Linked DNA regions of Homo sapiens: region 2 is linked to region 1. A link means that fine-mapping ties the variant in region 1 to the expression of a gene that starts in the linked region. Tissue or cell type: thyroid. Region 1 holds a variant in brackets; the other region holds the start of a gene. All regions are shown on one strand. Distances are from middle to middle.

Region 1 (2,500 bases):
AAAAAATCTTAGTGTCTGGAATTCTAAGTTATCATGCTCATTTCAAAATTCTACTAAATTAAGCATAATGGCATGAAAGTAATATCAGCATACTTGCCTACATCTTCCAAATATATTATGATAAACATCTAATTTTTTTCAAAAAATATTTTAGTCATGTTTAGTGAGCCTGAAATATTGTGCATGCATGCAGAGTTAGAGCTAAAATAAGTGTTTTAGTTGGTTTAGTAAAATAGATCAAGTGTTCGTGGCAACTGACCACTAGGGGCCATTTGTATGGAAGAAGGTGGTTGGTGACCAGTGGGCATCTGGTTATAAGCAAAAGTGTCTTTTTCACACAAGACCTGACAATCAGAAGCCAGCCATGAAGCACTCCGGGCTTCACCAGCAGTTAACAACCCCCCGTGACAAAGAGCTGACAAGGGAAGTGGCTTAGGTCCCTGCTCTAGCCAGTTAATGAGGCTGTATTCCCACTAGCCCTAAACTCCTTCTCACCCAGCAGCAGCCTGAACAAAAGCAGAAAGGGGAGCAGCCACAAGAAAGCCTTTCCTTTGACTGAGGAGAGATTTCACACCCAAAGCCATCATTTAGGAAGGATACTCTCCAGCACCACTAAGCTGTGCTGTGCCCTGCCTAGGAGCCTCCAAGCTGCCACAGATCCCCCTACCCCTGGGGCTCAGGAGAGGGGGAGATTTGTACATCTCTAGCCATAGCACCAGCATGGCCAAGGGCAGGTTAGGTCCAGCTGGTGTCCTCCAGAGCAGGGCCTGGTGTGGCTGCCAGCCTCTGATGTGTTTGCAAAGGGAAGGAAGTCACAGAGTGCCACCTCAGTGGCCTGACTGGTGCATGGGAACAGGAAGGGCCCTCCTGAGCTGAGGACGTGGGGTTTCCAGTGTCCCCGGCCACCTCCCTCCAGCAGCCTCCTCAGTCCGGGCAGGGACCAGCATGCAGAGCCCTCTTACCCGCATGCTGTGGCGTTTGAAGACATTGTGCCGGTGGAGAGGTGGGGTGTGCAGTGAGTTAACGGGAGATGGATACTCCATAGGGCTGGTGAGCGTAGGAGAGCTGGCACACAGACCCTCAGGAACCTATTCAGGAAAAGCAAAGAAGCACAAGGCACGGGACAAAGCGAGAAGGTAGACAATTAGCTGCTACAAACACGAGCACAAAGAAACTATGCATGAGCACCACAGGGAATGGGGCTTGCTCTCCAGGAGTTAATAAAGAACAAAACGTGGGCCTTCCATTGCTCCGAGAGAGATGGTGGAGCAGTGCAGCCTCTCATTCATCCAACATTCCCCCAAGATGCTCTGCACACAGTGGGGTCCATGCTGGTTACGGACCCACTGAGACCAGGGCTCTTCCTTCAGGACTCTTCAAAAAATAGTTGTTTCAGTTGCATTACAGACTGACTGATGTGGTTAACACACCAATTTATACAGATATGTATGAATTGTTTTTTAAAAATTCAGATAGGCTCTTGCTCTGTTGCCCAGGCTGGGATGCAGTGGTA[T/C]GATCACAGCTCACTGCAGCCTTAAACTCTTGGCCTCAAGTAATCCTCTTGCCTCAGCCTCCCACATAGCTGGGACTACGGATGCATGCCACCATGCCTGCCTTGAATTTTTTTTAATTAAAAAATAAGTATATCACAATTTTATTGTATTACTATTTGTTTTTAGAGATGGGGTCTCACTATATTGCCCAGGCTGGTCTCAAACTCCTGAGCTCAATGAATCCTCCCATCTCACCCTCCTTAGTAGCTGGGACTACAGGTGTGTTCCACCCTACCTAACTCCCTGTTTTAAATATTGCACATGGGTATATCTCTTTTTTTTCAGAACGATTTTTCCATCTTCTGAATCAGGCTTTCTCTTCACGTGAAGAGGATTTATCTATTAGTCCTTAGATGGTCTTGTTTTGGCACTCAGGCATTTCCTTGAGAACAAATATAGGACCATGGGACACCACCTTTCTATAAAGGGCACCAACTAAATGGACATTATTTCTGGTGGTTGAGGGGATCAATTTTTGAGCAGTGGCTCTGAGCTGGGGGATGCAAGAGAAGAAATAAGAGGAGACTGGACTCCCTCTCTCCTAGAGGCAAGAGAGACACAGAACAGAGACATTCAGGGTCAGGGACGCACAGCCTGGGAAAGAGTCATGGTTGGGGATAATGGAGCTGGGAGAAAGCTCAGGTAAAACCCTGCTGTCTCTTCAATGGCCACCCAGGTTCTGGATGGGGCCTCTTTGGGGAGTCCCATGGAGCTACTCCATTTGTTGGGAAATATTCCCTGGGATTCCTTCTGGTAAGGAGGCCAGGGAGGCCTTAGATGTGGGGAGAGAGCAGCAGGCAGGCACACAAAGCAGCAGATGATGTAGACAGAGGGATGGGGCTTAAGGCAGGTCTTAGCTGAGCACAGCCTGGGAGAACTGCATTTTAATTCTTGTGATCTGAGTCTGCATTCTGTTCTGGGTGCCAAAGAAGAGTCAACCTAGGCCA
Region 2 (2,629 bases), 120 kb after region 1:
ACCCCTGCAGCTTCCCCTCGCCCCTGCACGCTCTAGGTTCCCAACAAGCCCAGCTACTTTCATTTTCCTGGATGCCGCCCGCTGCTTCCAGCCTCCTGCTGCTTTTAGCCTCCAGTCTCTGCACTTGCTGTTCTTTCCCCTCTTCTCTTGTGCTAATTTCTAGTCATCCTTCAGCTCTCAATTTGGAGTCACTTCTGCCAGGACGCCCTCCTGGCCATTGCTGACTGGCTCCCCCCACAGCCCTCTAGTGCAGGGTTGGATAGTACCCTGCACCTTCCCCTGGCAGCCCTCCCTCAACCACCCGGTATCCCACACTGCCCTGGTGAGCAGAGGCCATGCCACACTCACCTTGTCCCCACACCTTGCACCTGGCCGCAGGTGGGAAGCCAGTGAGTGCCTCCTGAATGGATGACTGCAGACTGTCCCACCAATGCTGGGGCTCTCCAGTGTGACTACTTCCTTCCTCCCTTCTGTCTTTAGTCACTTTTTCATCAGTGTCCTCCTCCCCCTCCCCCAGAGTGGTTGGGAAAGACAGGGCCTTCAGCAACAGCACTTGGGGTGAACAGAGAGCATCCCACGTAGAGGGGCCTCCCAGCACCCACCACCACATCACACCACGTGCACTGCCCCAGTGGGCTCAGACCCAGCCACAGCGCAGCTTCCGAGTTCCTCCTGGCTAAAGCCACCTCTAGGCACAACTTTCTGCTCTTGTCCTTCTGCTGGCTCCTTAAATGAGCGGACTTGGATTTTGCTCCCAGTTTGGGGTATAGGGAGATGCCAGTGTCATGTGGTCGAGGCTTAGGGCAGGTGGCAGGGCTTGCAGAACATCACCCATATGCCGCTCCACGCTCACCCACCCAAAGCGGTGCCCACGCGCAGCCTGACAGCAGGCAGAGGCAGCTCTGAACTTAACCCTTGAGTGGCACTCAGGAGGCGGCTTCTCAAGATACCAGAATGGCCAGTGTTAACTACACACACACACACACACACACACACACACACACATACACACGAGCTCCCCTGTGCCCCAGAACACCCTTGCTTTCCTCCAGCCAGGGCTTGATTCAGAAGATGACCTCTCAGGTGCAAGGAGTGGCTGCAGGAGAGTCAGGGTGGGCTGGGGGTGAGACTATAACCCCTGGGGCTGCGGAAGGGCCCGGGAGGGAGCGGGGAGCGGGGGCAGGAGCTGAAACCCCGTGGCTCCCTAACCTGAGCTTTAGAGGCAGCAGCCTGGCTGTGCCCTCACACCGTCACCCCTAGCCTCCCCCAGCCTCCCCTGTCTGAATATGTTGAGAGGACAAAGAGGGAGAAACACCCTATAGTGTCAAATTTACTCCAAAAATAGAACCCCTCTTCCCCGCGGAAGGCTGGCGAGCTCCGGGCATGTGCACAGCACCCACGGCTCCGATTTCCTGGGTCTGGCCGTTTCTCCGGGAACTCCCAGCTCAGGTGCCCAGGATCCCGGAATTGTCCCCAACCCCTGCCACCCGGTCAAGCCTCCAACTTCTGCCGGGCGCAGCGCTCAGCCCTGGCTCGCGGGAGGGACTCACCCAGGGAGGCGCGGACTCCAGCGACTACTCCTCGGGCACCGCCAGGTGAGCCGGGACGGCGGCAAGTACAGGTAAGTCGGCCGGGCAGGTAGGTGTGCAACGGCTCCGGAGGCTGTGGCTGAGTAAAAGGGCTGACAGGTTAGATTCTCCCTCCTCCTCTGAGTTGTTAACCACACCCCTGCTGCTCTCCTCCCCACTTCCTTAAAGGGTGGGGTGTGTTGTCTGTGTGTGCCGGCTCCAGCCTCTTACCATAAACTCTGAAATAGACGCTGCCACCAATTCCCTGAGCGCCGGGCAGACCTGGGGGGCGATCTCTGCCATTCCCCCGGCCGCAAATGGGATCCTCGGATGTTATGTGCCCCTTGTGAGCAGTTAACTCCCCAATTCCTAACACCCCTCCATCCTCTGTCCACTCCACCTGCAGCCTTTTGGAGGCCAAAAGGTGTGTGTGAGGTGGGTGGGGGCGCAGGGCGGGCGGAGGAAACCAACTTCTCAGGCTGGTTCTCCCAAGACCCCCCGCAGTGGGAGATGTTATATCTACATGGTACTGAGCACTTGTGTCCTAATCTCTCCATGTCCTAAAGTGGCCCCAGTCCCTTTGCAGGCATGAAAAATCATAAATACCACTAGGGATTTTGGCAGAACCGGTCCAGGTCCCTGAACACAGAAGACCAGGTCCCTGAGCTGTGACTAAGTAGGGTCTGAGGACAGCACAAGAATAGTTAGAGATGCTGGACAGCCCCTTCCAGGGGCCCCGCCCAGAGGCTGGTCCCCTCTTTCCTCAGGCCGGTGATATGTGAGCAGGCACTCAAGGGCACTTAGCAACACTTCTTCCCTATCCCTAGGAAAACTCCAGACTTGCTCCTGAGTAGGAGGAGGAAGTGACCTGGACTTGGCATAAAGTGAAAAAAGTGGAGTGTACGCAGCATCATCCTCATCCTACAATGTCCTCTCCAGAGCCCCTGTCCCAAGCTTCTTTATTCTGTGTCCTGTGCAGGATTGGAATCTGATTCCCAGAGCTGCCCTGTTGCACAATTCTAGAGGATGCTATTCACAATGTACTTTCTGAGAATGGCGCC

Evidence for each region. PIP is the estimated chance that this variant, and not a neighbour inherited with it, causes the effect.
Region 2: PTK2B starts here. The variant in region 1 is fine-mapped to the expression of PTK2B in thyroid (GTEx, PIP 0.99).

What each region holds. Positions count from the first base shown.
Region 1 is chr8:27,444,382-27,446,881 of GRCh38, reverse strand. PTK2B (protein tyrosine kinase 2 beta) reads right to left here. Exons shown (of 31, transcript NM_173176.3): 24 at 963-1,088. Among named protein-coding and RNA genes, the nearest start is that of MIR6842, 12 kb to the right of the region's middle. The variant T/C (reference allele first, on the strand shown) is at 1,514.
Region 2 is chr8:27,324,603-27,327,231 of GRCh38, reverse strand. PTK2B (protein tyrosine kinase 2 beta) reads right to left here and starts at 1,680. Exons shown (of 31, transcript NM_173176.3): 1 at 1,551-1,680. RefSeq lists enhancers at 536-605, 1-780, 1,386-1,435, 1,486-1,635.